Regions from separate parts of the Homo sapiens genome. Here region 2 is linked to region 1. The links come from fine-mapping of genetic effects on plasma protein levels. A gene starts in region 1. The other region holds a variant in brackets. All regions are shown on one strand. Distances are between the middles of the regions.

Region 1 (5,360 bases):
TCACGCAGGGGCCACACAAACCCTCCCAGAGCACAGAGATTCTCTCCGAAGCAGAGATTCTCCCCAGCTCCTTCCTGGACGTTCTCCTCACCTTGGCAGCATCGGCCCTGTGGTTAGCAACCCGCTAGTTCTCCTTAAATCCTCACATTAACAAAAAATAACCTGTTCTTGAATGACATTTAAAATTCTTTAAATTCTTAAATTCATTTGTGAAACTTTCCAGCGAGACGGGCACCACCACAAACCACAGCCAGCTCCCGTGTCTTCGACTGGAAAATCTGTGGAAACGGGAGGAGGCAAGCGATCACGTTCTAGCGGACGGGGCCTTCGTGCCTGAAGCCCGCCGGGGAGAAGAACGAGGGGGCAGGTGTCCAAGGCCGGGCGGCACCAGATGGGCCTGTCCCCACCCATTGTCAGCCCGGGAACCGGGGAGAGAGTCGTCCTCGAATGGCGGCTCACAGCAGCCGGTTAACACTGGGTGCCTGTCCCATGTCTGCATCCCCAAAAGCAATGATGACCCAATGGGGGACCTGTGGGCCACCCTCTGACCCAGGACGGAGAAACCGTGGAGCAGAGCAGGAGGCACCGAGGCCCCCCGGCCCCAGGTGCTGTGTGATGGAGGGGGGGTGGGGGGGGGGCAGCAGCTCCTCTCTGGGCCTCAGTATCCCCCGTGGGAAAGGAAGGGGTGGCAGGAAGGAAACAATGGGCCCGACCCGGAGTGTTCGCTGACACCCCTCCTCTGGGAGGGAGATCTCCGTCGTCCTCCTAGGCAGCCCCCTCCCCACAGCCACACCCTGCCCAGGCCTGGCTGTCAGAGGCCCAGAGGCTCCTCCGGGGCCTGGCGAGCAGGGCAGATAAACAAGGCTGGGGGGTGGGGGTGTGGAGCAGGCAAGTCTGGGCCCTGGCTCCCCTGAGCCCCTGGCTGAGCTCCCGGGGCGGGGTGACGGGGAGAGGGGTCAGGCCTTTGTCTGGGTTTTCAAAAGCAGAGGACACTGGGTGTCTCGCTTTCCCAGGGAGGGAGGGAGGCAGCGGCCCCCACCCAGCCGCGGGCGTGGCGGGTCACGGGTGAATCCCCGGGGAAAGTTGGCGGCTTAGAAAACACGCCCAGTGGGAAGGGCAGGGGGCCACAGGCGGCCTCCAGATCCGGTCTTCGGTCCTCGGGCTGGGGTGGGGACCCGGGCCTCAGCAGGGCAGCTGGCTCCCCTGTCCTGAAGTGGGCAGGTGGGTGACCCCAGGAGGAGCCTCCTGACCCCTGCCCGTGCAGTGCCCACCTGTGGGAGTGAGGGGCAGAGGGGCACCCGAGCACCGGGAGGAGGGGACCGGTGTCCGAAATGACCACGCGCCCTCGCTCGGTGCCTCCACTGGCCACCCCCCCCCCACACACACAGGCGCAGCCATGCGGGGGTCCAGGGATCCCAGCCCAGGGCCAGCCCACTCCTGTAGCTACACCAGTGGAGCCCCAGCTCCGAGACACTTCCCCGAGAGGGTATCCCACCCAGGCGCCCCGCTGGAAAACGCCGGTTCCTCTCCCTTCTCACACACCCCAGAGACCCGGGAAGCCGAGGGCAGCCCCTCTCCCTCCAGCGGTAACTCGGGACCTGCGCAGTGGCGGGGGGCTCAGGACACCCCTGGAGGCCCTTGGGAAGGGCGGGGGTGGGGGGCACCGGCCCGCGCGCGCGTCCAGGGCGCCAGGAGCCGTGCGCTCAGACTGGGGCGGGGGAAGGGTGCGTGAGCGCGAGGCCGGACCGGTGCAATCTGGGGAGGGGTCGCTCCATCTCCCCGGGGCCACCCACAGGTGGCCGAGAGCCGAGGCTCGCCCTGGAGACGCGGGCGGGGCGCGGGCGGAGACGCGAGCCTCCCCCTCCCCGCGTCCTGGACTGGCCCGAGCCGCCGCTGCCCGGGTCCCCACGCGCCGGTGGGTGGGCAGCCGGGGTCCGGGAGCGGGGAGGCCTCCCGGCAGGCGCGGCCCAGCCCGAGTCTCTTCCCGGCTGCGCTGCGGCCCCAGCAGCCCCGCGCCGCCTCCTGCTCCTCGCGGGGGCAGCGACGCCCCCAATGGGGCGCGAGAGAGGGGGCCTCCCCCCTCCCCGGCTCCCGGAGCTCCGGGCCCCCAGCCCCGCGGCCCGAGCGCGCCTACTCACTCCATCTCCCCGCCGAGGTCCGGGTGGGTCCGCGGTGCCGGGCGGGGGCGGGCGCGGGTGGCGCGCGGGGGAGGGGAGGGGAGGGGGACGCGGCCTGGCGGGGGCCGGGGCGGGCTAAGGCCTGGCGGCCGGGGCTGCGCGGCGCGGGGGCGGCGGCACCGGCTCGGGCATCGCCCCGCGCAAAGCTGCTGTTTATTGTCCGGGCGGCGGCGGGCGCGGGGGGTGGGCTGGGCGCGCGCGTCTCCGGCGCGCTCCCCTCTCCCTCCCGCCCGCCCCGCTCCCCGCCCCGCTCCCCTCCCACCTCCCCGCGCTGCGAGCGGGCGCTGCGCCTCCTGCCGGCTGCGCCGCCGCCGCCCCCCGCCCCGCGCGCCCCGCCCCGGGGCACCCCTGAGAAGGGCCTAGGTCTGGGCGCGGTGCTGGGACCCGGCTGTCACCAAGTCCCGCCCCTCCCCAGCTCCTGGGCCAGAGCCGGGACCCTCGCGAAGTCAGACAAGCAAAGGCCTTTCTCGAGAGCCCAGACGCCGAGAGGGACACACATTTCAGGGCGAGCGAGGGGATAGGGGGGTCCTGGGGAGGCCGCTGCGAGGAGCTGACAGCTCCCTGCACCCCCGGCCCCGCTCGCAGGGTCCCCAGGCCTCCTTTGCCGGAGTATCTGGTGGAGGGCGCTGTGCCTGCAAAGGCCGGGGGTTGGGGTGGAGACAACCGCAGGTGCTGATCTGTCTGTGCCCTGGCTGGGAGCTGAGCCTGGTCCCCGGGGCTGGAATTTAATCGGCCCCAGGGCCCCCATGGCACACTCACTAAAGGCCCAGCGACCAGACGACCAGAGTGAGTGAGAGGGACGGTGGAGAATCAGGGAGAGCTCAGGCTTTGTCCTCAGAGCACTGGGGAGCCACAGCAGGAGACAGGCAGGACCTGTCTTCCCCAACATGTAGGCCTTGGGCCCAGCTTCCTGGTTTCCCGTGAGAACACTGCAGACCAGCCCCAGCACACCTACTCATGGGGGTCCAGGGTGGGCAGGAAGGAAAGATTCTTCCAAACTTCTTAGTTTTCTTATAAAACGGTTCTCCTCTGCCGATGTTTGCTGAATGGCTGTAGATTTAAAGGAAAGTAGCCCCGGATGAGCTGTGGAGAAAGATACGGCAGGATGTACCCCAGGCTGAAGAAGGCCGTCAACACCTTTTCTTTATTCCTCCCTTTTTACAATGAATGTGTATTCATTTTAGCATTTAAGACAATAAGATAAATTAGCAAAGGTTAACAAAGCTAAGATCCTAAAGAATATCAGGGGTCCCGGGTCTGTCTGATTCCCAGCTCACCCATCTCCAAGCTGTGTGACCCTGGGTCTGTTTCTCAACCTCTCGGAGCCTTATTCCCCCCCACCCCCCTGCCCCCACCCTTAAGGCTGTGGGAGGGTTAACTGAGTGAGCACACACAAAGGGCTTGGCACAGGGCCCAGCACACACTAGCTCAGGGTTTGGCAAACTTTTTCTGTAAAGGGCCAGAGAGTAAATATTTTCAGCATTGCAGGCCACAGTCTCTGCGGCAATGACTCTGCTCTGCCATCGCAGAGTGAAAGTAGCCAGAGACAATATGTAAAACCATGGGCATGGCTCTGTGCCCATAAAACTTTATTTACAAAAACAGGCAGTGGGCCAGAGCTTATCCCAGGGCCGTAGTGTACTGACCCCTGCACTAGGCACCCAATAAAACTTTATTTACAAAAACAGGCAGAGGGCCAGAGCTGATCCGAGGGCCGTAGTGTACTGACCCCTGCACTAGGCACCCAATAAAACTGACCTGTGAGTCGTTTCTTCACTTCCCCTTGGCCTCTGTGTTCTTTTAGTCCAAAGTGATTTATTGAACACCTACTGTGTGCCTGGCACCGTTAGTCACCTGTGATGCAGAAGTTCCATTTTTGCGGCCAGGCGCCGTGGCTCACGCCTATAATCCCAGCACTTTGGGAGGCTGAGGCTGGTGGATCACGAGGTCAAAAGTTTGAGACCAGGCCGGGCGCGGTGGCTCACGCCTGTAATCCCAGCACTTTGGGAGGCTGAGGCTGGTGGATCATGAGGTCAAAAGTTAGAGACCAGCCTGGCCAACATGGCAAAACCACTTCTTTTTTTGGCTGGGGTGGACGGAGTTTCGCTCTTGTTGCCCAGGCTGGAGTGCAATGGCGCGATCTCGGCTCACTGCAACCTCCGTCTACCAGGTTCAAGCAATTCTCCTGCCTCAGCCTCCCTAGTAGCTGGGATTACAGGTGTGAGCCACCACGCTCGGCCAGTGAAACTCCTTCTCTACTAAAAATACAAAACTTAGCTGGGCATGGTGGTGCGCGCCTGTAATCCCAGCTACTGGGGAGGCTGAGGCAGGAGAATGGCTGGAACCCGGGAGGCAGAAGTTGCAGTGAGCAGAGATCGCGCCACTGCACTCCAGCCTGGGTGACAGAACAAGACTCCATCTCAACAAAACAAAACAAAACAAAACAAAAAAGAAGTTCTGTCCTTGGAGAGACGGTGATTTTTGTCCCCTACATAAATGATTCAGGGTGAATGAAGTGACTGTTACATGTAATCCCAACACTTCAGGAGACTGAAGCAGGAGGATCACTTGAATCCAGGAGGTGAAGACCCTGGGCTACCTAGTGAGACTTCCATTTCTACAAAAAATTAAAAATTGGGCCGGGCACAGTGACTCACGCCTGTAATCCCAGCACTTTGGGAGGCTGAGGTGGGCAGATCACCTGAGCTCTGGAGTTCGAGATCAGCCTGAGCAACATGGAGAAACCCCGTCTCTACTAAAAATACAAAATTAGGCGGGCGTGGTGGTGCATGCCTGTAATCCCAGCTACTCCAGAGGCTGAGGCAGGAGAATCACTTGAACCTGGAAGGCGGAGGTTGCAGTGGGCCGAGATCGCACAATTGCACTCCAGCCTGGGCAACAAGAGCGAAACTCCATCTCAAAAAAAATAAAAAATAAAAAATAAAAATTAGCTGGGCACGGTGGTGTGTGCCTGTGGTCCCAGTTACTTGGGAGGCTAAGGTGGGAGGATCGCATGAGCCTGGGAGGTTGAGGCTACAGTGAGCCGTGATCATGCCACTGCACTCCAGCCTGGGCAACAGAGCCAGAACCTGGCTCAAAATAAAATAAATGATTCAGGGCCAGACACAGTGGCTCACACCTGTAATCCCAGCACTTTGGGAGGCTGAGAAGGGAGGATCACTT
Region 2 (5,360 bases), 14 kb before region 1:
CCTGTCGCAAAACAAAACAAAAGCAAAACCACAGCTGCTCACGCCTGTAATTTTAGCACTTTGGGAGGCCGAGGTGGGAGGATTACTCCAGCCCAGGAGTTCGAGACCAGCCTAGGCAATCTAGTAAGACCCCATCTCTACCAAAAATAAAAATAAAAAATATTATCAAGGTGTGGTGGTGTGCGCCTGTAGTCCCAGCTACTCGGGAGGCTAAGGTGGGAGGACTGCTTGAGCCTGGGAGGTCCAGGGGGCAGTGAGCCATGACCCCACCACCCTACTCCAGCCTGGGCAGCAGCATGAGGCTCTGTCTCAAAAATGAATGAATGGCCGGGCGCAGTGGCTCACGCTTGTAATCCCAGCACTTTGGGAGGCTGAGGTGGGAGGATCACCTGAGGTCAGGAGTTCTAGACCAGCCTGCCCAACATGGTGAAACCCCCGTCTCTACTAAAAATACAAAAATTAGCCAGGCGTGGTGGTCGGCACCTGTAATCCCAGCTACTTGGAGGCCGAGACAGGAGAATGGCTTGAACCCAGGAGGCAGAGGTTGCATGAGCCGAGATCGCGCCACTGCACTCCAGCCTGGGCAACAGAGCAAGACTCCACCTCAAACAAACAAACAAACAATAAATGAATGAATGAATACCACTGTTGCCGGATACGCCTGAAGGGACCGGGCTTCAGGCTTCAAAGATACAGGGCCCTTTGTGGTGTGGGAAGGAGGTCCAGAAACCGAAGCCCTCGCCACCCCCACCAGGCACCCACCACACGCTCACTCGCCCAGGAAAGAACCGAGGAATTCTGTGGTTCTCTGACCTCCCCACAGCAACCTCGCCCTGCAGCTCCAGAAGCTGGTGCAGAGCCCCTCTCCTCATCTGTCTGCAGCCCCGTGGTTCACACGGAGTTCAGGGCACCCCCACCCCACTGCTTTCTCGCTTCCCCTCCCACCTGCTAGAAGAAGAGCTTTGCCACCCAAACCCTCCCCTCCCCTCCCTGGTCTGTGGGCCCTCAGAAAGCTGCACGTAGTAGGTGCTTAGTAAAATGCAAAAAGCAGGCCGGGCGCGGTGGCTCACGCCTGTAATCCCAGCGCTCTGGGAGGCCGATGCGAGCGGATTACCTGAGGTCGGAAGTTCGAGACCAGCCTGGCCAACAGAGACGGTAAAACCCCGTCTCTACCAAAAAATACAAAAATTAGCCGAGCGTGATGGCAGGCACCTGTAAAACCAGCTACTTGAGGAGCTGAGGCAGGAGAATTGATTGAACCCAGGAGGCGGAGGTTGCAGTGAGCAGAGATCACGCGCTGCACTCCAGCCAGGGCAACAAAGCGAGACTCCGTCAAAAACAAAACAAAACAAAACAACAAAAAGAAAAACGCAAGGAGCACCGAGCCCTAGACTGGGGCTGAGCTTGGCCTTGACCTTCCCAGCGACCCTCAGGCTTCCAAGGCTGTTGCAGCGAGGCAGGGAGAGGACGGTAGGGGTTGGCGGTGGGTGTCCCAAGCTCTGGGCGGCATCAACAGGGGGAGGCCCAGGCTGACGGGCAGGGCCTGGCGGGAACCAGGGGTGAGGGGTGGGAGACAGGTTCCCCCGACCCCCAACATCTTATCTTCCCAGAGACTGAAATTACAGCCTGCCCTTCGTGTCTGCTGCCACCCCCAGCCCTCTCAGCCTGGTGTCAGGGCCCAGAGCCAGCCCTGCCTCCAAAGAGCCCTCGTGCCTCTCTGGGCCTCAGTTTCCCCATCCACGCAAACACGGAGGCACAGATGCCTGCAGCTCTAAGGCCTCCTATGACGTCCCCCTTGTGCCCCCATCCCCTCCCCCAGTTCAGCAGAGAAAATGAAACTGCACAGTGCACTGGCTCACCCCCAGCCCCGCCTGGGAGGCTGCTCCGGGTCAAGACCTCCCTGGAGCCCGAGGCGCCCCGCCTGCCCACCCCACTCGGGTTTGGTTTCCTGGCCCTGCTGAGGCCTGTGAAGTTGTCCAGCTCCCATGCCCCAGAGGTGACCCCACCGGCTCCTCCCTTCCTGGCAGGTGACACCTACCCTTCCCGGTGCCTCCCAGGGGCCCGGGAACACCAGCTGCGCCCTCTGTGGCTTTCCCTTCTCCCTCCTCAGGGAGGCTGGGTTCAGCTGCCTTCACCGGGTGGGGTTCAGGAAAGGCTTGATCCAGCTTTCTGGCTTGGGGGCCCTTCCTGAATAGCCAGCTCAGCTGGAGTTCTCGGTCAGCCCCAGCAACGGGTGATGCAGGCAGTGAACCATCCACTGTGCGTTCCCTTGAGGCCCGGGCCCTCGCTTCCTGCCTACCCCAAGTTCCCCACCCTAGCCCAGGCCTCTAGTGTTCCCTGCCAACTCCCTGCCCCCTCACAGCTCCCTCTCCACCCGCCAGCCAGAGGCAGCTTCTCAAAAAGAGAATCAGACCCTAGGCCAGGTGTGGTGGCTCAAGCCTGTAATTCCAGCATTTTGGGAGGTGAAGGCCAGTGGATCGCTTGAGCCCAGGAGTTCGAGACCAGCCTGGGCAACATAGCAAGAGCCTGTCTCTACAAAAATAACTAACTAACTAAATAAATAAAAAGCCAGGTGTGGTGGTATGTCCCTGTGGTCCCAGCTACTTGGGAGGCTGAGGTGGGAGGATCACTTGAATCCAGGAGGTTGAGGCTGGGTCGAGCCGTGATTGTGCCACTGTCTCCAGCCTAGGTGACAGAGCAAGACTTTGTCTCAAAAATAAAAATTTAAGGCCGGGTGCGCTGGCTCACGCCTGTAATCCCAGCACTTTGGGAGGCCGAGG[C/T]GGGCGGATCACGAGGTCAGGAGATCGAGACCATCCTGGCTAACACGGTGAAACCCCGTCTCTACTAAAAACACAAAAAATTAGCCCGGCGTGGTGGCGGGTGCCTGTAGTCCCAGCTACTCGGGAGGCTGAGGCAGGAGAATGGCGTGAACCCGGAAGGCGGAGCTTGCAGTGAGCCGAGATTGCGCCACTGCACTCCAGCCTGGGCGACAGAGCGAGACTCCGTCTCAAAAAATATATATTAAAAAAATGAAAATTTTTAAAAATGGGCCAGGTGCAGTGGCTCACGCCTGGAATCCCAGCACTTTGGGAGGCCAAGGCGGGTGGATCACCTGAGGTCAGGAGTTTGAGACCAGCCTGACTAACATGGAGAAACCCCATCTCTACTAAAAATACAAAAATTAGCCGGGCATGGTGGCACATGCCTGTAATCCCAGCTACTCAGGAGGCTGAGGCAGGAGAATCACTTGAACCTGGGAGGCAGAAGTCACGGTGAGCCGAGATCATACCATTGCACTCCAGCCTGGGCAACAAGAGAGAAACTCTGTCTCAAAAAACAAAACAAACAAACAAAAAATTTTTTTAAAATTAAAAAAAGAAGGCCAGGCACGGTGGCTCATGCCTGTAATCCTAGCACTTCGGGAGGCCAAGGTGGGCAGGTCACTTGAGGTTAGGAGTTTGAGACCATCCTGGCCAACAAGGCAAAACCCAGTCTCTACTAAAAATACAAAAATTAGCTGGGGGTGGTGCCAGGCGCCTGTAATCCCAGCTACTCGGGAGGCTGAGGCAGGAGGATCACTTGAACCCGGGAGGTGGAGGTTGCAGTGAGCCGAGATCGTGCCACCGCACTCTAGCCTGGGGGACAGAGTGAAACCCTATCTCAAAATAACAATAATAATAATAATAATTAATCAGACCCTGTCCCTCTCCAGCTCTAGAGGCTCCCTGGCTCCCATCAGCCCTTAGAGGAACCCTCAGGTCGGCCCCTTCACTTCCCCCGTTGGTCTACTCCTGCAGGGCCCCCTGGCTATGCACCAAGCCTCCTACCCCAGGGCCTCTCACACACGGTTCCCCCTGCCCGGCACCTTCTTCCCATGGCTGGAAGCCACGTCCAGGGAGGGCACAGCGTGGCCCTGGGCACAGCCAGATTGGAACAACAACCGCCCAGCCCCGGGCCACCCCACAGTCCTGGTTTCCAGCTCTAAGTGGGCTCGGGGCCACCCCGGAGGGAGCAGAGCTGGGGCGGGAGGTCCACAAAACGGCGGAACTCCTGGGCCCCAGGATCAGGCTGGTCGCCGACTGCCCAGGTCCCCACCCGGCAGGCAGGTGGCCGCTCAGACCGGACCCGGGGACAGAGTGTGGCTGTGTGGCCGCCTCCCAGGCTGGAGACAAGGCGGTAGTGTCTGGGGCAGCCTGTCCCTGCCCGGCCGGCCAGGGCGGGGGAATGTCAGGCGGGCGGGCAGGGAACGCGCGGGAAGCAGCCCCAGGGCGCAGGCCCCTCCCCAGGACGCGCCCCCCTGGCCCCCGCAGTCACGGGCGCCCCCCTCGCCCCTCCCCAGACCCGGCGCCCCCCTCGCCCCTCCCCAGACCCGGCGCCCCCTTCACTCTCCCCAGGCCCGGGCGCCCCTCTCGCCCCTCCCCAGACCCGGCGCCCCCCTCACCTCTCCCCAGGCCCGGGCGCCCCCTCGCCTTTCCCCAGGACACGCAGGATGCGCCCCCCTTGCCCCTCCCCAGACCCGGCGCCCCCCTCGCCCCTCCCCAGACCCGGCGCCCCCCTCGCCCCTCCCCGGGCCTGGACGCCCCCTCGCCTTTCCCCAGGACACGCAGGATGCGCCCCCCTCGCCCCTCCCCAGACCCGGGCGCCGCCGCCCCGGTGATGGATGGAGGGGCCCGCGGGAGGCGGTCGCCGTGGCAACCGCGCCGTCCCCATGGCAACGCCGAGGCCCGGCGCGCGGGGGTGGGGCCGGCGCAGCATCTCCCGCCCCCGGCCTGTGCTTGGGGGGATTGGGGGGGGCCGAGGCTTCGGGCCTGGGGCGGCCTAGACGGGCGGGAGGGGTCGGGAATTTCTCCCCCGCGCTGCGGCTGGGGGAGGGGAGGGGGGTCCCCGTCTGGGCGTCCGGGGGGCGCCCGCCCAGGAAGGGGCTTCCATCCGGGAGGGGTGTGGACCCGCCCCCGACGCCGGGTAGCCAAGGTCAGGCCGACAGAACGCTCCACGTCACAGATTGGAAAAATTAAGCGAAATATGACCACGACGCACGGATCAAAACGGCCACAAACCGAGAACGCCTCCCCCAGCGCTCGCTCCCTCCTGCGGCCGGGTCAGCCCCATTTCACCGACGGGGAAACTGAGGCCGGGCAGGGCGGCCTTCTCCCGGCGTTCATCCTCCTGCGGGCGGGGCCCGCCAGGCGCGGGGGAGTCTCATTCCCGTGTGATCGGCGAGGCTGGGACCAGGACCCCGGCGCAGGGGTCACGGAAGGAAGCGGAGGTCGGATCACAAAAGGTCTTACATGCTGGGCGGAGGAGCTGAGTCCCGGGCAAAGGCGTGGAAAAGCTCAGGGCGGCGGCGGTCCTGGTGCTGC

Which allele goes with the higher level. Alleles are on the strand shown, and positions count from the first base shown. The strength of an association depends on the size of the effect and on how common the allele is.
In carriers of allele C in region 2, the plasma level of the protein whose gene starts at base 2,355 in region 1 tends to be lower than with T alone (weak association).

What was found. PIP is the posterior inclusion probability: the model's chance that the variant is causal. The UK Biobank Pharma Proteomics Project read protein levels with antibody pairs (Olink). The fine-mapping took linkage between variants from a reference panel, not from the people measured, so its PIPs are less certain.
Region 2: its variant is fine-mapped to the plasma level of the PALM protein (UK Biobank, PIP above 0.99).

What each region holds. Positions count from the first base shown.
Region 1 is chr19:705,930-711,289 of GRCh38, reverse strand. PALM (paralemmin) reads right to left here and starts at 2,355. Exons shown (of 9, transcript NM_002579.3): 1 at 2,139-2,355. The coding sequence starts at 2,143. RefSeq lists a silencer at 3,109-3,345 and an enhancer at 2,798-3,358.
Region 2 is chr19:719,586-724,945 of GRCh38, reverse strand. The region is part of intron 1 of PALM (paralemmin); the gene reads right to left. Among named protein-coding and RNA genes, the nearest start is that of PALM, 13 kb to the right of the region's middle. The variant C/T (reference allele first, on the strand shown) is at 2,781.